4 linked regions of the Homo sapiens genome follow. The protein of the gene in region 4 interacts with the protein of the main gene of each other region in a pairwise test. Each region holds a gene or a part of one and is shown on either strand. Other genes may lie near its edges.

Region 1 (7,373 bases), on a different chromosome or scaffold from region 4:
CATTTAATACATGGTGATTATCATTGTTATTATTATTGAAGGATTTTTAAAATCCTAGGCAGTGAGAGAACTACCATGAAGACCATCTGTCCCCAACTCACTCAAACCAATTAGAAGAAAATAATGTCTTCTAAATATAAACATAACATATGTTCATTATTTTTCATATATAAAATAATTTCTAAAAGCCATAGAACAAAATTTAAAATACCTAAAGCCTTTCATCCAGAGGGAAACACAGTTAACATTTCAGTATGTGCCATATTTTTTCTATAAACCTGTTTCCAGAATCTTAATCACACCATTTATCCCATGGTTTGAATATTTTTATGTTGTTAAATATTCATCTACAACATCTTTTTTTTTTTTTTTTTTTGAGATGGAGTCTCGCTCTGTCGCCCAGGCTGGAGTGCAGTGGCGCGATCTCGGCTCACCAAGCTCCGCCTCCCGGGTTCACACCATTCTCCTGCCTCAGCCTCCCGAGTAGCTGGGACTACAGGCGCCTGCCACCTCTCTTGGCTAATTTTCTGTATTTTTAGTAGAGACGGGGTTTTACTGTGTTAGCCAGGATGGTCTCGATCTCCTGACCTCGTGATCCACCCGCCTCGGCCTCCCAAATACAACATCATTTTTAGCAGTTGCTAATCTAATCCAACCTAGGTTGGTCTTGCATATTTCATCCCTTCTCAGTGATTTCTCTTTGTGGTGGATCTAGCAGGTCAGCAGACAAGGGGTCTTTCATTAATGCCAGTGAGCGTCCATCTGAGGACAAGATGTTGGAGGATGAAGGAGACAGGGGAGCCATACAATATTTCTAGCCGTAGCTAAGCCCTGATTATGTTTAAAGCAACAATAAAAACAAGTACGTAGCACTAGTTTAGGCTGCTTCTGACTCAGTGTTACAACATGGTGCCAAGGCTGACCTCATTCAACAGCCTCACAAGGGCTGCCCACGCACATTATGCAGTCAGCAGGGGCCTGCCTGTGGGGACCACAGGCCCTGAGCCATGGAGGCCACCACCGAAACTATCCCAGGGGCCATAATGTGATGTTTTCCCATCCCCACATGTTACGGGAAACTAACAAGCCCATCCCTTGTCAAGAGACACACGTGCACCTTTTTTTTCGCATGTAACAGAAGGTTTTTTGTGACTGAAGGATCTACCTTTGGAAAACTCCCAAGGAGATGGATACATTTATCAGACACGAGCGAAGGTTTGCATTTTAAAACTTAGAAATGGAGAATCTTTTGAAGCAACGCCTATTCCTTCTTCATGACCACGTTAATGCCAGAGTTAGATTGGCAGTTCTAGGATCTGAATCAGCCATCTCCAAAGAAAGGTTCATTCTCAAGATTTCCTAAGCTGCCCCCCAGGAGTGGTTCCGGCGATGCCAAGTGCAAATTCTACAGCAGGAATTCATTGACACATCCCCGCGATGACCCTATTTAAACAATTCACCCCACATGCTGGTTCGATATTCAAGCCTATGTAAATAAGTGAAAATAAACAGAAATCATCAGTGATCAATAGAATGAGGTTCATAAGATTTTAAAAAGTTTTAATATCATGAGGTCAGGAGAGCGAGACCATCCTGGCTAACACAGTGAAACCCCGCCTCTACTAAAAATACAAAAAATTAGCCAGGCGTGGTGGCGGGCGCCTGTAGTCCCAGCTACTCGGGAGGCTGAGGCAGGAGAATGGCGTGAACCCGGGAGGCGGAGCTTGTAGTGAGCCGAGATCGCGCCACTGCACTCCAGCCTGGGCGACAGAGCGAGACTCCGTCTCAAAAAAAAAAAAAAAAAAAAAAAAAGTTTTAATACGGGAAAGTTGATTTTATATCACCATCATCAAAAAATATTCAAATAATGATATTAACATCTGTAATATGAACCAACGGTAGCTGAAAACAGAAAAGAATGGTGAAAACAGTTATGTATACTGGAGTTTTTAAAATTACATCACTATTTTCTGTAAAATGAATGTGCTCCCTGGAACTAATGAGATTTGTGTCTTATGTTTGTAACCAGCAGAGATCGCGGACAGTGATGAAAGACTGGACGGCATTGCTCTACCACCAACAGGTAAATAAAACGCATTTACATTTTCATCACCTCCTGGAAAATACAGCCCACAAAACTATTTGCATTGAAAACGATTTTAACATTAGACATGCAGACACTTGAGCAAACTGCTTCTGCAGTGGACCAGGCCCCGTCATTGGAGCTTCTCAAGGCCCCGTACTCAGAGATGTTTTTCATACTGAATAGAAAAACGTTTTTCTCACACTCTTATTTTCATAAAAATCTCAGAAGAGCAAATCCTAAGAACTAAGTATCATAACATTTTGCCTCCCCAAACCTTTGGACATTACAAAATATTTTTAACGTGAAATGAGATTTCACCTTAAAACGGGGACCACTAATTTTGTGTGATCAAATTCATGGCTAGGCTGTCCTCTCCCACCTCCTCCAAACGGCCTTGGAGCCTTGAGCAGTCAATCAGTGGACACCCAGTGAATACTATGTTTTAACTGAGCGATTTGAACAAGGCCAGCCATCCGGCGTGAGTGGCACATTCCTAATACCAGGACCAGATCAGCTGAAGATACCCTTCCATGGAAGCATTTGCTGCACGCTGTTGTGTTAAGCCATAGACATAATTCCAACTTCATGTTATTTGACTCTCAAGTAATGCTTCTGACCCTGGCTTCCTACCTGTGTATGGGTTCATATCTGAGAGCCAGAGGGGCAGGTGTCTGATCAATGAGCCTTGTGGAAAACAATGTATCCCCTCCATTGGTCACAGGACTCTACTGACTTCCCTCCAAAGGATATCTGAAGATTCTCTGCCCACAAAACCCAGGTACCCCCAAAAACCCTCTTACTGAAAAGGTTCAACCGAATGTTTTTTCCTCTAGTTTTGGGGTGGTCTGTGTTGATTAAATTCAGCAAATATTAGTGGAGTCTCTAGGTTGTGTAGGAACTTGACTAGGCCATGTATTCATTGACAGCACATATCCCAAAATGGCAAGGAAAGCCACATTCGCAGGCATAGGATGGGCCTGTGCTAGTGAACTTCAGAGCTTCAGAGCAACAGGAAAATTCAGCCGTGTAAGAGACACATTGCTTTCTCTGCCACTGAGTAGCTAAGCAACAGATCAATGGACAGATAAATCAAATGAGCTACATAGTGCAAAAAGACCTGCCTACATCAAGTTCTTCCCATACAGAGTCATTATATAAAAGAGATTTCTGTTCTTCTTTGGCTGTGTTTTCACATTTGTGAATTAAGAGAATTGAAATACGTGATCTCTGTTGTTCCTTCCCAATTTGTCATTCTCTGAATATCAGGGCACGCATATCAGCCTCATTCTTATCACCTGGGCCCAATCCCAGCCGATCCATGAAATCCTAATCGTAATAGACCTAGCCTTCAGAAGGCCCTTCAGGGGAGCACCATGCCTTTCTAGCTGTGCTTCCCAAGTGCCCTCCCACCCTGGCCATCTGCACTGCCTGTCCTCCTGTGTCATGTGACACAGTGAGCTTTTATTATTTGAAAGCCACTCCCCTTGAAGTTTATATTCACCCCCAAGTGGTGAGTACGGAATGCCTTTGTATTTTCCTATCTGAAGTTGGAGATACGTTTCCAGTGAGAAAACTGAGGTCAGAGGGTGCTAGAAGAGCCTCATGGAACTGAAAAAAATGTCAAGGAATCTGAGAATGAGAAGGAACTTGAGAGATCCTCTAGTCCAATCCCTTCTTTTTATCCAGTCCTTTTATTTTACAGGAAAAAAAGCCTGAGGCCCAGAAACATTAAGTGGCTTTCCCACGGCCTCACAGCTGGTTGACGGCCTGGCCGGAACCCAGGTCCCTCGACTCCCAGCCATGATACCATATAGCTTTCTCATACCTAAGCCAAAGCCAGCTTTTCTCTGCATGTTTCTTAAAGATCCTAAGAGATGATGGATGTGCTAATCCCTTTAGGAGTCCTCTTCACTGTCTCAGTCTTCACAATTAAAATGTTCGTCGTCAGTCGGCCCGGTTCACTGCAGCTGAAACTCGTTTCTTCCAGTCTTTTCTCAAACTTTACCCAAGGCTGTGAGGTCATAATGAAGAAAATAGTATAACACACTTGCAGATCTTTTCATTAAACTATTGATAGATATTTGATACAAATCACTAAGCAGCATGATAAATAAAAACGTTTATCATTTAGAAAAGAGGAAAAGAGGCCGGGCGCGGTGGCTCACACCTGTAATCCCAGCACTTTGGGAGGCCGAGGCGGGCGGATCACAAGGTCAGGAGATCGAGACCATCCTGGCTAACACGGTGAAACCCCCGTCTCTACTAAAAAATATATAAAAAATTAGCCAGGCATGGTGGCGGGCGCCTGTAGTCCCAGCTACTCAGGAGGCTGAGGCAGGAGAATGGCGTGAACCTGGGAGGCGGAGCTTGCAGTGAGCCGAGATCGCGCCACTACACTCCAGCTTGGGTGACAGAGCGAGACTCCGTCTCAAAAAAAAGAAGGAAAAGAAGTCTCAGATTGATGCTCAAATTTTGCAGTAATAATATTAAGTAATCTTGATATTCACCTGGATAGCATGTCTCTTGATTGCCTCCAAAGTAAAATCCCCATTCTGGTTGGCTTCTTTGAATGCAGTGCTGCTCCTAACACCCCTCCTCACATGTGCCCTTTAAGGACTCCACCTTTCTCGCACATGTGGTTTCATCCTTGAGCTTGAGCCTCACTGGTCAGAACCACAGGATCGACCAAGGGCTCTGATACAGACTCTCATTATCCCATTTATCTGAGCTAGCAACAGTTAGTTCTTTTTAAAGATTCAACAATGCTTTTATTACTTTTTTAAGGTCTTTTTTCCTCCTTCCAAAGTTGTGTATTTGGGGGAAGGGCAGGGAAAGGGATGTAAATGCTTAAGTGTTTCTATGAACCAGAAGTGACTAGGGTAGGGTTACAGGCAGGTCAAATGACATTTGTTTGGATGCATTACATTTAAGCAACCTTCTGTTCATCAGGCTTTAGCAGAAATGGATTCACCTTCTGTAGTGCATCTATTTTAGTTTCCCTTAACCCTATTCACTAAGCCTTTTTGAGCAACTACCAAGAATCAGCCCCGTGTTGGGTGCTGGTGTACAAATGCCCTCAGACTAGTGTGAGAGGCAGAAGGAATTACATAAATGCTATAGCACAGATGTGTGGAGAGGGTCTGGGGCTCAAGAAAAGCCACCCAGGAGCTGGGGACAATTTGCATTAAAAAAAAAAGTATAGAGAAAGTGAAATCAAAACAGTGCTTTCTAAAATTTAAAATGGGGCTTCCAAATTTGAAATGGGGATGTTCATCTAGACTTAGCAATTGTCATAAATTGGCATTTTACATACTTTTAAAAAATTAATAAAAGTGTAAGGAAGAACATTTCAATTGCTTTTACCACCCACAGACAACCATTATTGGATGATTTTTCTCAAATGTTTCTCCATTTTATTTATTTATACAGTGGAGATCAAATATGTAAAATTTTGTTTCCTACATGTTTTTTTGATTTTTACCTAACAAGCATTTTTCCACTCTATGGCAAATCTTCATATGCATTATTTTAATAGCTGCATAATATTCTGTTTTGCAGGTAAATTATCTTTTAGGCCATTTTCCATGACTGGACAATATGTGGATATACTCTAATAGTAACACACATTCGTGGCCTTTCTCATAAAAAATCATTACAAATTTCCAATTTCTACAATTGCTCATGGAGGACAACTAAAGCCTTGGCTAAAAACTTAGCGACTTAAGTGTGAAACACAGACACCTCCCCAGTAAATTGTTTACTTGTCCAGAACGCCCACCTCCAGCCATGTCACAGAACCATGTACAACTCTTCCTTAGAGAAGCGGCTCTCCGCCTTCATTTTCTTGTCTCTGTTGTAGGTAATATATTTGACACCAGGAGAGAAAACACGGAGGACACAGAACCAGGTTTCATTGCCTAGACTTTGATTTTAGTGACATTGTTGAGTGGCATATGTAACTTCCGTTTGAATTTCCACAAAGATCCACGTAGCATTTCAGGTTCCTGCAAAGTGTGGGTGTTCTGTCAAGCTTACCTGTCATGTTTGAATAGTTTCATATACTTTCTTTGTAATGTGTGATAACCAAGCCTCCAATCTGGTATAAGATTTTTTAAATCATTTTTAGGGTTGATTTGTTACCCTTTAAAAGTCCAGCATATGATTCAGTGAGTTCATTGTCCATTATAAAGAAGTGGTTCTCTCTTCCCTGTTTTCATTCAAAACCTCAGTATGAATATAGAGCTTTGAAACGTATTTATTTTAATGTAAATTGCTTAGATGCAGTATAAAGGAGAATGGCTCTTTCCAGTGCTGAGAGAGCAGTTGTGAAGGCCAAGATTAATTAGACCTTCATCATCTTAGAAGATGAAAAAGTTGTTTTGGGAGATAGGATAGCTCTGACCTGTAAGATGAAATCATTCATGACGTCAGTGCCCCCCAAATAGCCATTTGTAACTGAGTAAGTGCAAATGACCTATGAGTTCTTAGGAAAGAAAAACCTTTCACCTAAGTTGCGTCAACACAATGACAAAATAACTAATTAAAAGGTGAGAAAACCAGTAAATTATCTACATGATACCTGACAGCCATTTTAACAGATGGTCTTAACGGAGTGCTACAGGGTTTTGGCACCATGTGGTAACTAGCTAAAAATGTACTTAATATTATGTCATTTATTTGGTTCCTAGTATACTTGCCCTCCACTTTATATAAAACTAATTTATGAAAATCTGGATTTATTTTAAAAAGATATCTTGCCATGAAGGTATTTGTTTTATAGAAATATTTACCTCCAGATTTCTTTCTCTAATAAGATGGTGAATTTAAAACACTGTGTTATTTAGAAACACTGCATTTACACTTCATTTATTGTATAAAGCAAATTGCATTGAATCTTCGCCACTTGACCCAAAGGCCAAAAATTGGCATGAGAACAATTTGGACTACACATCACCAAACCCGGGGTTCACACCTGTCCACTAGCAGTTCCAGTGCCTTCCCCTAGCCCTGGATTTGGCAAAGCACAGAATGTTAAGAGCTAAAAGTTATTGTAGAGGCTACTCAGTCCCACCCGGGAAACTGAGGATGAATGAGGGTAAGCGGTTGCCCAGAGCCCGTTAACCCCTCCGTGGCTGGGGCCCTGCCTAGAACCCGAATTTCCTGACTACCCTGTCCAAGGTATTCATGTCACATCACACTGAAACGCTAAACCTAGAGATAGGAGAGGCCCTCTGGGATAAATCCCTGTTCCACCAAAGACCAGCCAGTCATCAAAGATGAGAGAAGG
Region 2 (7,488 bases), on a different chromosome or scaffold from region 4:
CCACACTGTAGTAGGGTTGATCTGTGGGACCATAATCATATGTGTGTCGCTTTTGAGGCTGGGTTATAAAAGACATTGTGGCTTCTATCTTGCTCTCTCTTGGGTCACTTGCTCTGGGGGACGTCAGCTACCATGTTGTCAGGAGAGACTCTCATGACAAGGAATGAATGCCTTATGCTGAACGCCACATGAGTGAGTTTGGAAGGGAAGTCTCCAGGCTTCAGATGAGTGCAGCTCCTGCCGCCAATTAGACTGCAAGCTCCTGCGGGACCCTGAGCTGCTTCCAAGTTCCTGAGCCACAGAAACAGAGGGGAAAGCACTTGGAAGCCGTTTTAAGTCCCTACCTTTTGGGATTATTTGTTATGTGGCAAAAGGTAACTGATACAGTGGGTAAAAGCACCTAGCACAGTACCTTGTACAGAATTGGGGCTATAGAACAGACAAGATCTATAGCTCTGGATTCAGGATAGAGGGCTGGGCTGGAGACAGGGATTTGGAAGCCTTTGGCTCAGACACAGTAAAGGAATCCATGGAGGTGGCTGAACCATTCCATGGAGAGGGGTACATGGAGAGGAGGGGATTGTGTTGAACAGGAACTTGAGCTTAAGTGTCGGGGTAAAGCAAGAGGAGCATCTTTGTAAGTCTAAGAGGAGGAGCTATGGAAGAAGGAGGAGAACATGCATCCTAGAAGCCAAGGGAAGGGGCTGTCCCCTGGCAGACGTCACTGCAGAAGCCTTGCTGCGGAGAGGCCTGAGCCATGCAGGTCGGAGGAGGTTCTTTCAGATTTAGTATCAAGGAGGATTCTGGTGAGCCATTTAGATGGAGAGGTGGGCCCTGAGGCCAGATTGAATGTTACGGGTTGGGGTCTTAGGGGAAGTGGGGGGACACAGCAAAGGAAGAGAGGGAGGGGGACACTGTGTCGAAGGAGAAGTCTGAAAATTCTTGAGTCAGGGACAGAGACCTGAGGCTGTTTATCTGCTGATGGGCGTGGGAGATGGGGACTGGAGAGAGGGAGGGATGGAAGATCTGAGCCTGGAGAGGCTAAAGGGTGGGAGAAGGAATGGACTAGAGCCCAGGGAGGGGATCACCTGGACAGGAGGTGGAATCCCCCAGCCATCTCATGAGGGGAGGACAGTGCAATGCAGGTCATTCCAAAAGAGGGCAGAGGAGGGTTCTAGGGGGCTCCCACTGAAGGGGAAAGGTTTTCCTGACAAGTAGGAGGTGAGGTCGGCTAGGCAGTGAGAGTTGGGAGAAGGGAGAGAGGGAGGGGACTCAGATCTCCACACTTCATTGTCTTGTCAACTGCTGGTGCCCCTTTGCCCTCCCAGCACCGTGCTGGGCTTGGTTCCTTCCTGTAACAGGTGTAGCTGCAATAATAAACAGCCCCCTCCAGGTCAGCCTGGCCCCAGGGCAGACCAGGATCAGTATCTTTACCACAGGAGCCTGGATACTTGGTGGCCACCTGGAAAAGAAAGGTGCAGAGGGTCAGGGGCAGCTGTAAACCAGAAGCCAGCCTTCCCCAGCAGGCTTGCAACCCTGAGCTCTGTGGAGGCAAACAGCTTCCAATATAAACCCTTTCCACCCCCAACCCCCCAAACCAACAGATCCAGATGGTTTGCGGGAGAATCCTATAGAACATTCAAACTACAGAAAATCCCAGTCTAGTGAATAGACACTCATTCCTTAAGGTATGTTATGAGGCTCATGTAACTTTGATAGCAAAGCCAGACGAGGAGAGAATAAGCAAATAGTAGCATATCTCAGTCATCCACGTGGATACAAAAACCCTAAATGAAATATTAGCAAATGGAACCCTAAATGAAATATCAGCAAATGGAATCTAGCGGTATACTGAAAAAATAATACATCATGACGTGTGAAATTCCTTGAATAAAAATGCATTGACTTAAAAAAATACATTATCAAGGCGAGTTTATCCCGGGAATACATGGATGGTTTAATATAGTAAGATCCATGGTTGTAATTCATTACATTGCAATGGGGGGAATCTCACATTGATAAAATTCAGCACCCATTCATAGTAAAGAAGAATAGTGCTTCCTTACCCTGATAAAGAATATCTATCAAAAAATCCACAACAAACACTATAGTTAATGGTGATATGTTACAAGCAGTCAAGAACAGGATAAAAATGCCCATTACCATCACTGCTCTTCAACATTGTGTGAGAGAATTTAGTCAGCACAGTACAGCAAGAAAAAGGAAAAAAAGGACAGGAAGATACCACACTGTTATGACTTGCAGACTCTATGATTATTTGCACAGCGAATTCAAGAGAACCTACAAACTTATTAGAACTGAAAGAGTTCACTTTTGCTGAATATAAGATTATATAAAACCCAACTGCATTTCAATAGCCATCTATCAATTATAAAATACAAAAGTGAAAGTACAATTAGCACTAGTTATAAAAATTTTAAGATAGGAGGGACTAGGTCTGACAAAATCACCAACAAAATTAATCCATCAGTTTTTATATGGGGAAATAGAAGCCCTGAGAGGGGAAATGACTCTTTCAAGGATACCCAGTAAATCAGAGGCAATTCTGGGTTTTCAGTGGCACCAAATTCTGGAGATCTGAGTATTGGGTAATTTTGGTATTGTCCTTCTATTAAAAAACAACAAAACCCAGTGGGGTGGGGAGGAGTGGGGGGCAAAAAAAAAAAAAAAGAAAAACCAAACCAAAACTCATTGTATTTTTCTGATTATAAATTCAATATTTATGTGTTCTGATTATAAATTCAATATTCATGAAAATTCAGAAGAACGTTATGAAGTAATGCCATTAACATTCCCATACTGTTATCTTGAACACGATGGTCAATGGTTTGATGTATTTCCTTCAAAATTTTTGTCTGTATATATTTATGTTTTTAAAAATAAAATCAGGATATCATGTGTACTAGTTTGTGTATTGATCATTTTCACACACATTTCCCTGTATTCTCACCTAGTCTTTGTGAATTTGATAATGTAGCACTCAGTTATGTTGATGAAGCATATGTCATTTATTTAACCTATCAATTTGAGCTTTTGGAGACAAATCAAGTATCAGATATAACTGTGATGATCATGCTGATACAATTTCAACCCCAGAGCTAGCTCACACACATGCAGACGTGAAACCCAAGTGAGTTTCTAAGGCCAGTGGTTATTCTGGTGGAGAAGGTTAAACCCAGCATCAGGTAACTGGTCCCACCGGAAGGGGACAGTGGCCTGGCTAGCAGGAAGTGAATGGACTTGGAACGAGTGGACGGATGGAGACCAATTAGCCCTGAGGCGTTAGGTGCTGCCCATCCTCTGCAGCCTTGGCTTCCTTCCTGGTGAAGTGGGGACAATACCAGCGCCAGTCTCATCTAGGGTCGAGCTCCTCCAGGCCCCAGAGCCTTTGCATGGGTCGTTTTGTCTGCTGAAGGTAGCTCTGCCCTTCTCTCCACCTGGCTGCCCGTGTTGCTGAGCTTCTGGGCCCAGCAGCCCTTTGCTGTCTTGCCCGTCAGGCCGGACCAGACCGTCTTGCCCCGGTGGCCCCGGGGGCTTCTTCACAGGCCTCATCGCAGGGTTGTCTCCCCAATGCAGGGCAGGCAGGAGGAGCTCTGGCCGCAGGTCGGGGTCCAGGTCTTCCTCGGCCACTGCGTTTGGAGCAGGGGCTCCCTTCCCTTCTTCTCCATCTAAGTCCTCTAATCATGTCCCTCCCAACACTTACGGCCATAACTTGTCATTATTTTGTCTATTAGCTGTTTCCTTGAGTCTTGTCTGTCTTCTCCTTTGATTAGGACCCGCCTCCGTCTTGGTGGCCGCTGTATCTCCTAAACCCCCAGGCCTGAGATATAGTGGGGGGCCCATACAAGTTCGTGAAATGACTAAGGAGAAACAGCTGTGGAGGCACCACCCCTGAGGACGCAGTGGGCCTGGGGTTGGGCGGACCCCAGGCTGCGGGCGGAGGCGGGACGTAGGGGCGGGGTTTCGGGGCTTCGGAGCGGAGCCTAAGGGGCGGGACTGGGGCTTCGGGGCGGGGCTTCGGGGCTGCGGTCGTGTGGTCTTGACCGCGCGGCTCCGACTGCGCTGGCTGAGTTCCTCAGGCCGCCCGCTCTCTGGCTTCCAGCCCGCGCTGCCGTTAGGGGGCGCCCGCGCTCGTGGCGCCGCGGCTCTGCTGGGAAGGCGCCGCCCGCGCCGGGCAGCTGGAGCCGCAACTCCGGGCGCGGGCTCAGTCGTCCCCTCTGCCGCCGCCGCCGCCGCCGTCGCCGGGCGCGGGCTCGCTTGTCCCCGCGCTCGCGCTCTCCGGCCGCGGGCATCTCCCGGCCCGGCCGCAGCAGCCGCCGCCGCCGCGCAGTGAGTGGGGCTGGCGCGGGGCTTGCGGGGCCGGGGTTTGGGAGGGCCGGGTTTCAGGAGACGTCTGCGCCGAGCGGCCAGGGGAGCGGGGCTGAGGAGGATCTGGGCGGGGGCTCCTGGAACGGGGCGGCGGCGGGGCCGCGTTGAGGGGACCGCGCGTCCCGGGCTGGCACGAGCCAGCAGCGGAGGTGCCCGCGGCGGGGCCTGGGCGGGGGTTCCGGGGCCCGCCCGGCGGGGATGCGCGGTTTCTGCGGGCCCGGGTTCGGAGCCCCGCGGCGCGCCCCTCGTCCGGGCCCGGAGCATCGCCCGCCCTACCCCTGGCCGGGTCGGGTTGCGGGGGCTTCGCTGGCGGGGCAGCAGCGAAGGGCGGCCCGGACGGAGATATTTGGGGTGTGCTCGAAAATGATTGTTTTTGGGAGATGGCGCTTATTAGCCACCAATTGCCCTAGTTTAAAGCTTGAGGCAGGACTCAAAACCCTGCCTTTGGGATTTTCTGCCCTGAAGAGACTCTCAGATCGCAGCTGAGTTCTTTATGCCTAGATTTGTGTGTGTGTGGTGGCGTTTTTAATGCTTGATGTCAGAGGTGATAAATGGCCATGGTAATGGGGAGCCCTGGCAGCACCTGCTGGGCTGACAGTGGTGGAGGCTGTGTCTGGGGGTGGGACGGGGAAATGAAACGTGACAGAGATCCTGTTTGGATATTCTGCCGAAGTTACCATGTTTCTGTTCAAGTATACCAGTTCTAGAACAAGTTGATGGATCCAATTTTAGGACTTTGTGATAGAAGAGGTTTGGGTGGCAAAGTGACCTGGGATGACCCGGCTCGGCTAAGAATATTTGGGGTAGCCTAAGTATCTCTTCTATATCCCCCTGGCATGTTCTTTTTTTCGCTGTCACAAATGCCCTATTACTTGAATCATCCTGGGATAGGAGAGAAGCTTGGGGACAGCATGTAGCACAGTCCTGAGCCCAAGATTGAGATGTTTTCAAATGAACGAATATGTAGCTAGGAAAAGGAAAATGTGTTTGTCAGCAGGGTTGGTAGGTTGAGAGTATTTTCTCTTTGGCCGAAACCATCAGTCCATACTGATACTTGATTTTGTGCTATGCCTTAGATATGAACGATGGAGTGGTCAGGATAGCCATGGATGCCATTCCAAAGTTTTGTGATTTGAATTTTCATAAATCATATTTTAACCAAAGCATTACTACTTAAAGGAATCTTAGGGTGAACCCTATGAATCCTTCAGTGCGCTTGGATTTTGATATTTGGGGTCCATTTAAAATGGAGTACCTGTATGTATTTGGATTCAGCTTTAACTTGGAGATAATCCCGAGTCATGCTTTAAAGAAGTTCCTTCTGAGATCAGGAGCTCAGGTGTTTGGTGAACTCTGGGAAAACTAGACACTCCCCTTTACCTGTATATAGTTCTCCCTTCTGGAGCTCTGGGAAAAGGAGGACCTGGGGAGATTTGAAGCAAATTAAGAGGCTGCCTCCTCCATATTTGCCGTCTCCAGGCCAATGCTCTAAATTACTTGTGTTCACACTCAAGTTTCTCATGTTAACCTAGAAATTTTGTTTATGCTGCTGCCACTAATGTTTTCACATTTGTCTAATACTTGCTAGTTTACAGATGGTTTTATATTCATGATCTCCCTTATTTTCTCCATTTCCCCAAAGAAGAAGCTGGGCATAAAGAGTGATTTTCTCAGGGTCTCATAATCAGTAACGGAGCAGAATTCAACTACAGGACCTCCCTGGGAACCTGTTCTCTTTCCTTGTCCTGATGTGTTACTCTTATAGGCCAATTTTTGCCTTTGTGTTGTGCCTAAATGGTGTAATTACCCCGTTTTGGGAAGGTGGTATTATCCCGTTTTATCTTGCGGAAACTGAGGGTTAAGAGGAATGTTATGATTTTGTGACTATTTGTGACAGCTTTTTAATATTAGGTCACTTTTAAACCTATAGCTTCTCTCTTCTAGACCACATGGTTGAGAAAGGAGAAAGAGAAAATGATTACTTGTAGAGAAAAATCCATTTCTGCAGTGGTATGGTTAAGGATAATCTAACCATAATCACATTATCCTTGTATGCCTGGCTACTTATGCTGGCCTGTATGTGAATGTTAACCCCAAAGACTCCTTTAGATGTCGCTGAACTAGTTACTATAAAAAGTATTTCGCTTTCAAACTCCCACATTTCAAGAAGAGCAAAACTCAATACAAGGCAATTTTGAAGGTAAGTATAGAAAGAGGGAGTTTATTGAGTCTTTTCTGACTACCAGACACGAAGGTTTCAGTAAAAAAGCATTTTTAAAGGGCTGCCTGGAAACTCTGGGAAGTCAGTAGTTGGAGTTTTTTATTATTCGTTGGAGGTTTTTATTGCAACATATAGGTAGTTATATAGGATTAGGACTTTTGCCCCGGAGAATTCTTAATCTATAGCAGGAATGATAAACCCAGAATATTTTTGTTAAGTTAGTTCATCATAACCATTAGGCCTGTAATTGCAATTCTGCAGTGATAGGGAGAATGGCATTTAAGGGTTCTTAGGTTATTTTTTTAAGTTATTAACTTACTGAATTATGTATGCATTTCTTCAGATATGCTACTTTAGAAAATTAATACTTCCTTTTAAGGTTTCTATAAATTCTTCAGTATGTGTTTTCTTAAGCTTAATTACCTGCTAACATGACACTGTCAGAATTTATACATTAGTCACAATAACCTTTGAAGCTTAAACATGGTTGAATTTTCAGCACTGCTTTATATTCTTTGGGGAGTGGGCAGTGTTGTTTTCACAAGAATTTTATTTGCATCAAAGGTTACATCTTTTCAGGTGAACTGATTTTTCAGGGTCAGAGGCTTCTTTGAATTTTATAGCTGTTTGTGCTCGGTTGCATTTGCTGTCTTTCAAAACCATCTTTAGTTTTAGTAAGGAAAGTCACTATAAAGGAAAAATTTTTTATTGTTACCATTCCTGGTAGATTTTCTGAAATATTAGATATTTCTTTGCTTTCATCAAGTAAAATAGGCCTATTTGATACCCATTTCAAGATCTTCCTTCTGCTGCCTGTCTTGTGGTCATTTAACTTCTCATTAAGCCCTCCACTGGAGACTGTGCCAGAAGGGAGAGAA
Region 3 (7,373 bases), on a different chromosome or scaffold from region 4:
TGGGGTAAACTCAGTTCTCCAACTCTGGCCAAGCATTGCCCTGGTTGGGGCCCTGCAGTGGAGCAGACATTGAGATTACTGGCAAATCAAACTTTGGGTGATCTTGCCCTAGGGAACCAGCCTGTGCTTAACCCCTGCTGAGAAGTGGGATAATGCAGCCAAACATGATCCTCAGCCCACGTGGGTTGTGCTCAAGTGCTGAAGGCAAATCCTGGGCAGAGAGGCTAGAGAGCCAAGGGGCCTGTGAGTGAAGAGGAGATAGGCCCCTGTGGATGCTCAGCCATGGAGGTAGCCATTGGACAACTCACCAGCGCTGCTTCCTGGGCAGCTGCCTGGGTTTCCCTTGCCATGCTGATTCTTTTTTGAGTGCATCTTCTAGGACCTTCTGTCTTGGAAGGAGAGCCCCTTACTGCTCTCTTTCATGTATTGACTCAAAGTTTCTGCTGGAAGGAGCTTCAGAGATCATCTGGTCCTACCTCTGCATTTTTCAGATGAAGGGACAGGTCCAGGGAGGGAATGACCCTGGACCAGGGTCACTCCAGGTCAGGAGCACACCATGGTCAGGGCCCAGGGCTTCTGCTTCACAGGCTAGGTATCTGTCTTCTGCTCACACTGCCTTGGAGGGTATAGTTATTCATTCAGCACCTGTTCAGGACTGCCGGCTAGTGGACTGCTGGTTGGCAATTAGACCCGGTCACACATTCAGGGAGCTTGCTGGTGGAGGGAGAGGCAAGGAAACTGATGTGTTAATTGAGTCTGTGATCACCAAAAAGGTGCATCCCAGGGAAGGACTGATCTCAAATAATTTCAGACAGGTGTCATTCCTGTCTTCTCAAACTCAACCTACAGATTCCCCAGAGGCAGCTACTGTGTTTTCCACAATTCCTTTGCATGGTGTTCTTTGTAATCGGTCCTCAGTGATGGTTGCTGATGAAGCACGTTCTGCTGGCCCAACCCGCCACGTGTAGGTTTTGGTGTCCATCAGCCATATTATCATGAGTGCACACTTCTAGCAACGTCTGAGAGCCAGAGGAAGAAGCAAACCAGCTAATCTCCTGGGGTGGCCTGCATCCCCTTTATGCTGGTTTCTTCCTGGGCTTTGATTTGTACGGTGGTGCCCATCTTGATTAACAGGGACAGGGACAGAGAGGCAAATCTCTTGGCTCCCTGGAGCACCCAAACCTCCCTGTTGCCCAGGGTTCCACCTCATGAGCATCTTTGGAACCCATCCCTTCCTGCCGCTTCCTTTCACCAGTCAGCCCAGTCCACCGCAGCAGCTCCTCTCGCCCTCCAGTCTCTCCACTAACAGGGTCCCTTTGACACTGTCACCAGGTGCCAGCACCGTCTTTCTAAAACCAAAACTCCTCACCCTGGCCCTCGCTGCCCACGGCATTCTGGCCTCACCCTGACTTTCAGTCTCACTTTCTGCCCCTCTACCACCCCCCATCACAGTCCGGCCTCACTAGTAAGCCACTCCCTGTTCCCCAACCTGCCACCCTCCTCAGGACCTTCACCTTGGCAAGATTGTTCCTTCCTTTGAAGTGATTTCTTCCTGTCTCTGAAAAACTAACTCATCCTTCAGGACTCAACCCCAATGTCATTTTTTCTGGGATGCAATCTCTGACTTCTAGAGATGGTCACCCTGAGCAGCCACGCACCTGGTACAGCCCTTCCCCACAGCACTGCATCATTCCCTTGTGACTGGCCCATGTGTGGGGAAGGTGTCTCACTTTCTTATCAAACTGTGTGCTCCCTGAAGCCAGGACTGCTGATCCCTTCCGCTGCCTCAGCCTCTGGCCTGGGGCCTAATACGTGGTGCTCCATACATTCTGGTCGACTGTATGAATGAAGGGGGTGGCCCTTGTTCTCCTTTTAGATCCTAAATCCCGACAGCTTTATAGAGCCCAGGCCTGGCAGGCTCCCAGAACTTGAAGCCACCAGACCCCACATGGAACCAAAGGCCTCCTGTCCAGCTGCTGCACCCTTGATGGAGAGAAAATTCCATGTTCTTGTGGGTGTCACGGGGAGTGTCGCAGCCCTGAAGTTGCCTCTTCTGGTGTCAAAGCTTTTGGACATTCCTGGGGTGAGTATCCTCACCAGATAAGCATGGCAGCCTCCGGCATGGGAGGCCGGTGCTCCCGGGGATGGCCCATTGCTCTGCAGTACATGCAATTTTCTTTTTCTTTATCATGTTAATCATGCTTGTGGAGGTCCTGTGTGTGTGGTGCTCTGTGGAGGATTCAGGAGACAGAGACCAGTGCCCAGTGTAACCAGGGGCTAGATTAGATAGTACAGACAGGGCATGAGGGGAGACTGGGAAAGGACCCAGTGAACGGAGGGTTTGGGCTCCCATACATTAACCCTGAGAATCCGTGAAGTCCTGTGTGGGAGGAGGGCTGGCTGGAGAAGTGCAGCAAGTTCTCAGTATCCCCTCCTGCCTTGGGCTTCCCCATCCCTGCTTTCATTCCGCCTTGAACACTGCGGCTGTGTTCTCCCTCCTCGTGAGACCTCATGGTTGTCTTGTCAGTCAAATGCTCTGAAACCCCATTGTCTGAAGCTCTAGGTTCAAACTTTGCTCCTTCAGGTGTTCAGAGCTGCCCCAGGGGCCCCCGACTGTGTGCTGGGGTGAGGGACTCTAGCCCCCGTCCTTGGCCAGACCCTCAACTTGGATCTATTTTCTATATTGGGGTTCTGGTGCAGAAGTTCAAGGCTTTAAACAGCGTGAAATCTAACAGGGAGTGGCCCCACTTCCTAGTTCCACCTCCAGGGCCCTTAGTTGGTCTGTCTTATCCCCCTTGGTCTTTGCGTGGCTGGGCCCTGCTAGGCTGGCTGCCCTCTCTGCTCCTCTCTCGCCTTTTCACATTCTGTGCAAAGCCTTCCCTGTCTGCCCCAGCCCAGCCCCTGTGGTTTTGGCCCCTTCTTTTAAACTTATTTGACATAGAACTATAGGTTGCCTTAGACACTGCTGGTGTTACTGGCCCCTAGTTTTTGGTGGGGTCTTGTGAAGTTGCTGGGCCCCAGGCCTGGCTTTTCCCTCTTGTTATCAGCTGAGCACCCAAGGTGCAGTGGCCGTATCTGGCATGTCCAGCAGGGGGCGGTGCTTACTCACAGATGACCACGTGGTCACATCAGCTGGGGCTGGGCTGGGAAGTGTTTCACTTTTTTACTTTCCACCAACTTCCACCCAGAAAGTCACCCCATCACCCCACCCCCAGGGCTGGGATAAGCCATGAAGCTGCCAGCCAGGGATGACAGCCAGGCCAGAGTGGGGGAGGGAGGAGAGTCTCGTGGCACTCTGACACTGGGTGCTGCACTTTTAGGGCAGTGCTGCTTAGGCCCAGCCACCCGCTGTGTACCCAGAAGCATTGGTAGGAGCTGCCCAGCTAGAGCCGTGAGGGTGGGAGGCCTCTGCCACCACCCCCTGGGGAGGGAGGGAGCCATGCAGTTCCCTTTTCCCATAGCCCCAGGGCAAGTGAGTTTCCGGACTAGGGGTGGATAGGGGCGGGGAGTCCTATCCCAGGAAACAGATGGGCAGCCTCAGAGCGGAGGGAAATGGCAACCCTACCGCTTCCTCCCATCCCACGCAGCCAGCGTTTGGTGGGAGGGGGGTTGTGAGGAAAGGGTTGCCTGGAGCAGGGAGGTGCTCCAGCCCACCCCAGGGCCTTTTAGCCTGGGCCCCATGGGATGGCAGGCCATGTCTGGAACAGGACTTGGCTTCCCCTCTCTGGTTGGAGTTGATGCCAAAAGTGAGGCAGCCAGAGGGCACTGAACTGGGAGGGAGGGCTCCCCGACTCAGCCTCTTGGAGCTTGCCTTTCCCATTTGAAAATAGGGCTGATTCCTGCTGCCCATCCCCCAGACTCTTGTCAGGCTCCCTGAGATGTTGGCTGGGGTGGGAGGGGTCACAGATGAAAATGGTCCTGTGCCAGTGACTCAGCACAGAGCCTGGCATGTTGAAGCACTCGGTTGTGTGTGTTTCCTGGCCATCACCCTGTCCTTTCCCCTTGTTCATGTCCTTTGGGCCAGCCACATGGTGTGGGGCAACCCCACTGGGAAGAGCCATGGAAGCCACAGTTCACCTGCTCTTGTGGAGGGCCCATGCCTTTCATCTGCAGGGAGACAGCTCTCCAAGCCTGGCCTTGCTTATTAGGGCCCTCGTGAGGTGTTGGGATCCAAAGGTAATCCCTGGATTGCCTTGTGTTGGCCCCAGTGGTGGCGTCTATCCCTGCACACTCCCCTTCACTCCCTGATGGCCCTGATCTCCACATTGCCTCCTGCTGGATCTCCTGCAGGAGCATCATTGTCCCTTGGAGCAGTCACTTTCAGCTCTTCACCTGCTGAGTCGTGGGTTCAGGTGCTCAAGGCTTTCCGGAACTTCCTTAGGTACATCCAGATTTTGTCTAGCACATGAACAGCTGGGGTGTGGGCTGCAGGGAGCTGGGGGATTCTACAGATCTGGCCCATCACTGTTCCTGATTGACCAGTATGTCCAGACATCCCGGGAAAGCCGCTAATGTCAAGGTAGCCAAATCAGGGAGACTGTGAGGGGTGGTGGAGAGACATGGATTAGCCACAAGCCACACACACCAGCAGTCAGGGAGAGTAGTCACTAGCAGAGATGACCTTGAGTATGTTGGGGCAGGTGGGCAACCGTGTCACAAGAGAGGCAGCTGAGCACATTTCTGACGCTGGGACCCTGGGCAAGTCCGTTCTTTTTGGCCATAATTTTCTTATCCACACAGTGAAGGAGGGGCAGGTTCTCAAATGATCCATCTCCAGGGCCTCTTCTGGCACTGGTGTTAGAAGATTCTAGATGTGAGGGCAAAAAGGACTAGGACCCAAAGGCAGCCTGAGAGAAGGTCCTGGGGCTCAGGAGCTTCAGGATGCCGGGGGTTTTGTAGTTCCGTAGTTGTCATGTAATTGAGTGGCAGTAAAATCCGGGTTGTCAGCTCAGGCAGTTTCTTCCCTGGGGTTGGCAGCCTGGCCCATGCAGGGGAGCAAAAATGGCTTTCCTCCATCTTGCTAGGCTGCTTGGCTGGGCTATGAGTTCAACTGACTTATAAACAAAATTAACAGGGCCGGGCGCGGTGGCTCACTTTGGGAGGCTGAGGCGGGCGGATCACTTGAGGCCAGTTCGAGACCACCCTAGCCAACATGGTAAAACCCCAGCTCTACTAAAAATACAAAAATTACCCGGTTGTGGTGGGCGCCTATAATCCCAGTTACTCAGGAGGCGGAGGCAGGAGAATCGCTTGAACCCAGAAGGCAGAGGTTGCAGTGAGCTGAGATCATGCCACTGCACTCCAGTCTGGGTAACAGAGCAAGACTCCATCTCAAAACAATAACAACAAAAAACAAGATCAACAGGAGAAAACCATATTTAGTTACATATCTGCACATGGGTGTACCACAAAATATGAGATTCCCAGAAGGGTGAGATGGCTGAAGCCTGTATAGCAGCCTGAGCTACAGAAGGAAATAGGGGCTTGGGGCTTCTGGGGGTGGTGGCGACACAAGTTATGGGAGGGTGAGGGGAGGAATTATACGGTCTTGTTAGGCAGATAAAAACCTCTCAGATAATAAAAGATGCCTCAGCAGATTGTCAATAAGTCAGTCTTCCTTTCTCAGGGAGGGGGACTCAGGACAAGGGGAATCCCTCTTTAGGCAGATAAGAGAAGTTCAGAGAAAGTTCCTCCCTGCATTTGTTTTTCCCCCAGTGCCTTCAGGTTTGAAATAATCAGCATACCAAAGCCGCATATTATGGGGTGGCATTTCCTGAACTCCTTCATCCACACCCTTCAAACTTGGGAGGAGAAGACAGACATCGCCCTAGCTTTTGCCAGGGCAGGTGTCAGCAGAATTCAGAGCCAAAAGGGGATTTCTAAAGATAGAGAAAACCCCCAACTCAAGGAGTCAGCAGGCCTCGGGCTCAGAGAAGGATACATTTCTAGGGTGTCTGTCAGGACATCCAGGTCTGTCGAGGGTGAGGAAAAGAAGGCTCTGCTCATATGCAGTGTGGAGTAAATTCTGACTTTCTGGAGGACCACTTGACAATATTGAGAGAAATTAAAACATCTTCATAGTCCTTGATTTACCCACAGGATTAAACTCTGTGGGGTGTATTTACAAAGTGAAAGGATGTCCATTATAGCATTATTTATAATTTCAAAGCAAAACTGGAAGCAAACAAAATATCCAGCAGTAGAGAGCTGTGGTGCCCTTATGATTTATGGGACAATCTCTCAGTGGATTACTTGGCAATGATTCAGAAAAATGGGGTGGCTCTCTCTGTGCTGAAGGGAGCAATCATCAAGATGGAAGCGGAATAAGCAGGGTGTAGGAGCTAGCAAACTGGACCCCCCCCCCCAAGGCCAAATTCGGCTCTGCCTGTTTTTGTATAGCCTACAGCTAAGAATGATTTTTACATTTTAATTTTTATTATTTATTTTTGAGACAGGGTCTTGTTCTGTTGCTCAGGCTGGAGTGCAGTGGTGTGATCACTGCTCACTGTAGCCTTGACCTCCCAGGCTCAAGCAGTCCTCCCACCTCAGCCTCCCAAATAGTTGGGACTGCAGGCGTGCCATCACACTCTGCTAATTTTTTTGCATTCTTTTTGTAGATACAGGATTTTGCTATGTTGCCCAGGCTGGTCTCAAACTCCTGGGCTCAAGTGATCTGTCTGCCTCCACCTCCCAAAGTGCTGGGATTACAAGCATGTGCCACTGTGCCTGGCCTGATTTTTACATTTTTAAATGATTAAGTCAAAAGAAAAATAGTATTTTATGACTCGGAAAAAAAGTGATATGAAATTCAGATTTCATGTCCAAGACAATTTATTGGAACACAGCCATACCCATTCATTTACGTATTGCCTATGGCTGCATTCGTGCTACTACAGAGTTAAATCATTACGACAAAGCCTAAAATATCATCTGGCCCTTTATAGAGAAGGTTTGCCGACCCCTGGTATGCAGCCTGATTCCTTCTGTGTGTTCTTATACTGAGTTACTGCACACAGTTTTTTCCTCTGGAGGTGGTTACCCTTGTGAAGGGGGACCAGTGGAGGAAGGGAAACTTGCATTTTTCATTTTTGTATCATTCTGTTCAGTTTTAATTTGTAACCTATGTGTATATTTGTGTGTGTGTGTTTTTTTGTTTGTTTGTTTGTTTTAAGTCAGTGGGGCTTTTGGTGGGAATATTGGGGAACATTCTTGATAAGTTTGTGCTTTTTTTTTTTAAAGTGCTCACTGAGGAAAGAGCAGAAGACATAAGGCCTGGTTTGAGGATTTCTCTTTTTTTCTGGGTGGGGGCCACCTGCCCGCTCTGTGTCCTGATGTGGAAACTCTGAGACCTTTATTTGTGCCTCTGCCTGCTT
Region 4 (7,373 bases):
TAAGGTGGGGCTAAAGGAAAGGTCACAAATCAGCTGTTAACCCTTTCAACTAAGGTTCTGTAACCAAACAACCAACAGATAATCCAAAGATATATTTTCTTTGTTTTCCTTGACTTTTTATTGTGGAACATACTAATTTATACACAAGTGAATAAAATAATATAACACTTTTTCTTTAGCTAGCTTCAGGAGTTTATTTATGGCCAATCTTGTTTTACCCATCACTAGCCACTTTTCCCTTTCCTATTATTTTGAAACAAATTCCAGGCATAATATTTTATCAATAAATGTTATTTCTAAAAGATGATTCTTAAAAACAGTACCATAATGATACACACATACACATTCCTAAATACTAAAAATCCTGACAGTGTTCAGATTGTAATTGTTTCATTAATGTTAATTAATTTTTTGCTGTGTGAATCAATCCAAATGAAGTTCAGACATTGAAATTGGTCTTGTAAGTTGTGTTTTGTTTCTTAATAAATTCCCTCACCATCTTGTTTTATGTTTCCTTGAAATGTATTTCTCAGAAAAGGTAGGTCATTTGTCATGTAGCATTTTCTATAATTGAACATACTGGATTTTACTAATTGAGTCCTTACTGTGTTATGTAATGTTGATCAGATGCAGTTGTGACTTGAAATTCCTTTTAATGAAAACAGGAGTCACACAGGACAAGTTGTCTCTGTGTTTTGCAGCAGCCATGGGTTATCAGTGCCTCACAAGAAGTTGTAAAACGATATTTTAACACTATAATTTCTTTTTCATTTATTCCTGGAATGCTTCTGACAAAGAGCTATTTCCCTTCATTCATTTCATTAGCCAGTGGTGCAGTTTGTACCACAAAGGCAAGATAAATGCTTTATACTTTATGAGTATCACTGTGAACTAATGTATTTCTAATATAATCTGATATATCTCAATTTATTGTAGTTCTCATGTATATATCAATATTGTCCCATCTTTGGCCCCAGTTAGCCTCTTCAAATCCACCATGATTTGAATGAGTATACCTTTAGATGGGTCAAGCTCCTCCCAATTTGTAGTATCTTCTTCTAATTCTTGTTATGTTACACCTTCTAGCTTCACTTATTTATATTAATTGATCCTTTAAACTCTGAGTTTTTTTTTTTTTACCCTTTTTAAAGTTACTGCTTCCTTAACTGAAATAAAATTTCAATTTAAAATGACTTTTTGTAGAGTCCCCAAAACATTCTATTCATCATGGGCAATTGACTTCCCTCTGTTATGAGTCTCCTCTTGAGCTAAATTTCTTAATTATTAGAAGACTGCTTGGGCACTGAAATATAAGCCCATGCCAGTGAAATCCATTTCTTATCTCTCCATGTTGCTGTAAAGCAGTTTTTCTGTTATTTCCCTGCACTAGTTCTGCCAATCTTGATAATAAGAGGGAAAGTGGAAAACTACAAGATTAGAACATGGGACTCTTCATTGTTATTCTGTGCTTTTAAAAAAAATTCTTATTCAGATGTTTGTTAACATTAGTTTAGCATTTTAGACTCACCTATTTTTTAAAGTTCTTTGGATTAATAGATAAAACTTTGACCAGTGAATTCTGGAGATCTGGACTCTAATCCTGAGTCTTGACTCCTTTCCTGTACTTCCCAGTTCACATAGCTGGATGATCTAAGTGCTAAATACTGAACTTAGTGAGAATCTGCAGAAAATTTAAATCTCCTTCCACAAAGTTTGTCTAAAAATTGTTGATCAAAACCTTTTTGTTTTTATTAAAGTTAAGAAAGAAGAAAAGAAAAGGCATAAATCATCATCATCTTCCTCCTCCTCATCTAGTGACTCAGATAGCTCAAGTGATTCTCAGTCCTCTTCTGATTCCTCTGATTCCGAAAGTGCTACTGAAGAGAAATCAAAGAAAAGAAAAAAGAAACATCGGAAAAATTCCCGAAAACACAAGAAAGAAAAGAAAAAGCGAAAGAAAAGCAAGAAGAGGTCTTAATTTTACTTTTCTAATGCTAGCTTTATATTCTGATTTCCTTTCTGTAAATCTGTTAGGATTTTGGGTCAATTATATGAAACTGTTAAAATAGTGAGAAATATAGCATGGAGCGTAGGACTTTTGATATTCCACAGTCTATAGATTAAATTTTGGGTACGTTCATTTTCTTTTGAAAGAAAACCTATCAGTTCATTTTTTTGTGTACTCAATGAAATAATACAGCTTTGGTGTTACAGATTTGTGTGTTTTATAGGAGGATTATGGGATTTATGAAAATTGCAGAAAACCACCAGTTGTTTTTCCTATTTTCAGTAGCAGTCCCCTTTGCTCTTACGATAGCATAAGGATAGAAAGCAGATAATGTCAGTGTATTTTACTTTCTTTTCCATTTTGCTTGAAATAATCTGTGTTTGTACTAAAACTTGTCTTCATCTGCCTATGGCTCAAATGCAGTTAATTTCTTTACCCATGTTTTAAAGTATTTTAAATTTATCAGAGTGCATTGCTCACATAGTTTCATATTTTTTATCCATTTTGTAGGAAAATATTTTTTGAGAGTGTGATAATCGAAACGTTTTGTTTTGTTTGTTTTTTGATTGGTTAGTTGGTTTGTCAGAGGAATAGAAGATTTTTCCCATGCGATCACATCTTTGGTAAGGACAGGATGTTTATATTATAGTGATATAAAGGAAAGAAATACCAACAATTGGATACTTCCGTAAGGACATAATAACCAACTGTAACTTGTTTTGTGTGTTTCTGTCTGTTAAGTGCATCTAGTGAGAGTGAAGCTGAAAATCTTGAAGCACAACCCCAGTCTACTGTCCGTCCAGAAGAGATCCCTCCTATACCTGAAAATAGATTCCTAATGAGAAAAAGTCCTCCTAAAGCTGATGAGAAGGAAAGGAAAAACAGAGAGAGAGAAAGGGAAAGAGAGTGGTATGTGAATATGTATATTTTGCCTTACATGGTTTACCATAGAACTTTTCTTTTTAAAAAGTTATTTATTTTAAACAAGATTTAATTGGTGACCTTGTCCCAAGATTGAAATCTTTTTTATAAAATGTTCTTCCGCAAAGTTCTTTTTTGCCAACCACATAACTAGAAAGGGAAATTGACTTAAATTACAAGTAGGTTCTGAAGTAAAGTTACACATAATAAACACTAATACAAAAAAGAGATGTTAAGCAGCATTCCAAGCCAATAACAAGATACTCTTTAACCAGTAAAACAAGATAGTGTTTTATAGTGTTATTTGTGTACAGTAAACTCTTAAGCAAGTAAGAATCTTGGTTTTTCAGTTTGTCTAATAGGAAAAACTGCTGTTTTCCTTACTTGGTTTACAACATTGTAATAAAAATTGATGTCATGTTCAAATCCTGAAAAAAGTTTACTACATAAATCTACATTATTAATATCTGTAATGCTAATGGTTCTTTATCAGTCATTTTAATAACTATGTCCAGGCTGGGCGCAGTGGCTCACGCCTGTAATCCCAGCACTTTGGGAGGCTGAGGCGGGCAGATCACGAGGTCAGGAGATGGAGACCATCCTGGCTAACATGGTGAAACCCCATCTCTACTAAAAATACAAAAAATTAGCCGGGTGTGGTGGCGGGTGCCTGTAGTCCCAGCTACTCAGGAGGCTGAGGCAGGAGAATGGCATAAGTAAACCTGGGAGGCGGAGCTTGCAGTGAGCCGAGATCACGGCACTGCACTCCAGCCTGGGTGACAGAGTGAGACTCCGTCTCAAAAATAATAATAATAATAATAACTATGTCCAAAAGTAGAAAAAGGAATATTGAAATATTTTTCTTAGTTATGATCAGAAATACATTGTCATAATACAAGTAATAAAATTCTTGGCCAGGCATAGTGGCTCACACCTATAATCCCAGCACTTTGGGAGGCCAAGGTGGGCAGATCACTTGAGCCACCATGCCCAGCTAATTTTTTGTATTTTTAGTAGAGACTGGGTTTTACTGTGTTAGCCAGGATGGTCTCCATCTCCTGACCTCATGATCCGCCCACCTCGGCCTCCCAAAGTGCTGGGATTACAGGCATGAGCCACCGCACCCGGCCCAGATTCATTTTTATTAAAGTAACATGTCTGGCCAACAAAAGTTTTTAAAAAAATGTGTTAACTTTCTGTTTGCTTCCTTCTAGTAATCCACCTAACTCCCAGCCTGCTTCATACCAGAGACGACTTTTAGTTACTAGATCTGGCAGGAAAATTAAAGGAAGAGGACCAAGGGTAGGTGATTCTTTCCCCAGAGATCTTCACAATATTGCATTTGTCTTCCTTAAATAATTTTAGGGTGTTTCTTAAATATTATTTTAATGTGCAAGTAACTAAAATTTAGGGGAGATGCAGGCATTGAATTATATATTCTCTTTCTTAAGCAGCTTCTGTATGTTGGTACTTCCCAACAGAAAATCCATGAGATATGAATAGATTTTACATTTACATGGTATAAAATGGGATCGAGGTCTTTCTTGTCTCCCGTGTTTCTTGGCAATCACTGTATCTCTATTCTTGTTAAAAATAAATAAAAATTAACCCTATTCTTGTATTTTATTCTTTTTTTATTTACTAGAGTGTCCTCATCAGAATTTAAATATCTTGTGCTTTCAAAACTTTATAGAAACTTGGCTATACTTTCCTGTCTTATGTCTTCACTTCCTACTTATTCCTCAAGCATTTTAGTTGTCTTCCACTACCGTTGTTCTGCTGAAAACAGCACTTGATACATAATCAGCTCCATGTCACAAATTCCAGTGGATTCTTTTCAGTCTTCATCTTACTTAATCTTGCTCCTTGTAATATTCTTTCCACCCCCCCCTTTTTTTTTTTTGAGATGGAGTCTCAGTTTGTTGCCCAGACTGGAGTGCAGTGGCATGATCTCGGCTCACTTTAACCTCTGCCTCCCAGGTTCAAGCAGTCCTGCCTCAGCTCCCCCTAGTAGCTGGGATTACAGGCACATGCCACCATGCCCGGCTAATTTTTGTATTTTTAGTAGATACAAGGTTTCACCATGTTGGCCAGGCTGGTCTCAAAACTCCTGACCTCAGGTGATCCACCTGCCTGAGACAGGGTCTCATTTTCACCCAGGCTGGAGTGCAGTGGTACAATCAAGGATCACTGCAGCCTCAACCTTCCAGTCTCAAGCAATCCTCCCACCTCACCCTCCCAAGTAGCTGGGACTACAGGTGTGCATCACCACATCTGGCTAATTTTTGTATTTTTTTGTAAAAATGGGGTTTCGTCATGTTGCCCAGACTGGTCTTGAACTCCTGAGCTCAAGCGATCTGCCTGCCTCAGCCTCCCAAAGTCCTAGAATTACAGGCGTGAGCCACCGTGTCCACCCATTTACCTAACCTTTAAATACTGTAGTACCTCAGGGTTCCCATTCAAATCTTCTCACACTGCATATACTCCTTGAGCAATCTCATGACTCCCATGGCTGGTAACTGTCAAATTTTTATCGGCATTTTTCAGCTCCAAAGACTCATTTGACTAATGAGTACCTCAAACTTGGCTTTTACAAAGTTGAGCACAAGCTCTTCCTCTTCAAATCTGAACCTTCTTTAGGTTACTGATTTTAGTGACGGGCACCACCACCTGTGCAGTTCCTTCCCAAGAATAATCTGATTCTCCCCTTTCAGTTTATACCTTAACTATGCAAGTAACTTAACTATGGTAAGATACATGAATATATCTTACCCATCACCGAATACTGTCATTTCTGCCTCCTAAATATTCAGAAATTCATGTGTTTCAAGCTTTACCCCTGCCATGTTAATTCAACTCCATCATATTGTCTGAGCTGTAAATTTTGATAGTTCTCAATTTTTTTAAATCTCAGTACCTCTTTCATGTTAAAAATTACTGAGGACCCAAAAGAACTTCTGTTGGTGTGGGTTATATCTATCAATATTTACTCTTTCAGGAATTAGTACTGAGAAATACTTGAAACATAAGAATATATAAGCACACATTCCATTAGCTGTGAAAGTAATGATATCAAAACATGTAAACTGAATAACACTATTGTATGATAATGAAATAATGAAAATGGAACAGGCAAATATTGTGATATTATTATGAAAATAGTTTTGACCCCGAGTCTTTAGATCCTAGATCCCACTTTGAGATTCACTGTCTGATCTTTTTTTTAAAATAGTAGCCAGAATTGTCATTTAAAAATGAAAGTCTGATTTTTGTGCCACTCCTTTACCATTGATCTTAGGGTAAATCCAAAATAACTACAATGGCCTATGACACTACACAAAACCTAGTCCTTGCTTACCTCATCAATGTTATGTAGTACTACTTTCCCTTGCAGTTTTTAGATTTGGCCATGTTTGGTCTGTCTTCTCATCATTTCTAAAGCATGCTATGTTTCTTCTTAACTCAGAACCTTCCTGTCAGCATCTTTTCCCTTTTCCTTTTATACCCATTCTATTATAGCTGCATATATGTTTAACATATGTGATTATATGTTCATTCACATGCTCTCCAAGTCCTGTAGAATATGAGTTCCAGGAAAGCACACTCATATATCTTGGCTCACTGATGTTCTCTCAGTATGTAATAAGAGTGTTTGGTCATCCTAAGGGTTGAATAAGTGAACATCTACACATTTACTCTGTTTTCCCCATAATATGAGAAATATTTGCTTTGAAACATTAAGTATATATAACATTTAGATTGGAACTTGGCAACTTATGAGTTGCTCTAGCATTACTTGGTTAGGACTCTTCCATGGAGAAGACGTATGGCTAGCAGCTAAAGTTTTTGTGATTAATGTTTCTTGGAATTTGCAACATGACAACTTAAGTTTCTCTGCCTCATTGATTTCCTATATGAAAATTGGGAAATTTTAGTAATTTTCAGGGTATAGAAATATCAGACGTTTTATTTTAACCTGGAAACATATACTTTTAAGCTACTGTTTCAATGCTTTTTATATTTTTTTTATTTTGTACCCCTTACTACCTCCTGACCCTCACCCCAGTACTTCCCTCCCTCCCAGCACCCATGCGAGTCCCTCTATACTTCTATACATTAATTTTTCCCTATTTTAATTTTCTTTAGCGTTATCGAACTCCTTCCAGATCCAGATCAAGGGATCGTTTCAGACGTAGTGAGACTCCTCCACATTGGAGGCAAGAGATGCAGAGAGCTCAAAGAATGAGGGTATCAAGTGGTGAAAGATGGATCAAGGGGGATAAGTAAGATTTAACTATTATTATTTCAAATGTAATGATAAGTGTTTGCTTTTACTATTATACATAAAGTTATTGTCATTTTAGTTATTGCTGAATACCTTAAGAAAAGTAGAATATCATTTTAGCTAATAATATCTACAGTTCTTTTCCTAATAACATTTCCC

The links.
Region 1: the proteins of PPIG (region 4) and BEND7 interact in binary tests that used the Homo sapiens proteins (3 or more experiments, as listed by UniProt).
Region 2: the proteins of PPIG (region 4) and KCTD6 interact in binary tests that used the Homo sapiens proteins (3 or more experiments, as listed by UniProt).
Region 3: the proteins of PPIG (region 4) and PPCDC interact in binary tests that used the Homo sapiens proteins (3 or more experiments, as listed by UniProt).

Annotation. Positions count from the first base shown.
Region 1 is NC_000010.11:13,441,976-13,449,348, reverse strand, and holds part of BEND7 (BEN domain-containing protein 7), read left to right. Parts: intron 1-2,029; coding exon of another isoform or gene 2,030-2,032; coding exon 2,033-2,083; exon of another isoform or gene 2,084-2,807; coding exon of another isoform or gene 2,808-2,818; exon of another isoform or gene 2,819-3,262; intron 3,263-3,788; coding exon of another isoform or gene 3,789-3,802; exon of another isoform or gene 3,803-5,644; coding exon of another isoform or gene 5,645-5,700; exon of another isoform or gene 5,701-5,945; coding exon of another isoform or gene 5,946-6,007; exon of another isoform or gene 6,008-7,373.
Region 2 is NC_000003.12:58,487,820-58,495,307, forward strand, and holds the start of KCTD6 (BTB/POZ domain-containing protein KCTD6), read left to right. Parts: upstream 1-4,276; 5' UTR 4,277-4,350; exon of another isoform or gene 4,351-6,589; intron 6,590-7,488. UniProt on the Homo sapiens protein: Probable substrate-specific adapter of a BCR (BTB-CUL3-RBX1) E3 ubiquitin-protein ligase complex mediating the ubiquitination and subsequent proteasomal degradation of target proteins.
Region 3 is NC_000015.10:75,026,371-75,033,743, forward strand, and holds part of PPCDC (phosphopantothenoylcysteine decarboxylase), read left to right. Parts: intron 1-1,876; 5' UTR 1,877-1,948; coding exon 1,949-2,083; intron 2,084-7,373. UniProt on the Homo sapiens protein: Catalyzes the decarboxylation of the cysteine moiety of 4-phosphopantothenoylcysteine to form 4'-phosphopantotheine and this reaction forms part of the biosynthesis of coenzyme A.
Region 4 is NC_000002.12:169,629,017-169,636,389, forward strand, and holds part of PPIG (peptidyl-prolyl cis-trans isomerase G), read left to right. Parts: intron 1-1,757; coding exon 1,758-1,971; intron 1,972-2,582; coding exon of another isoform or gene 2,583-2,631; intron 2,632-2,749; coding exon 2,750-2,917; intron 2,918-4,143; coding exon 4,144-4,231; intron 4,232-7,075; coding exon 7,076-7,212; intron 7,213-7,373. UniProt on the Homo sapiens protein: PPIase that catalyzes the cis-trans isomerization of proline imidic peptide bonds in oligopeptides and may therefore assist protein folding. May be implicated in the folding, transport, and assembly of proteins.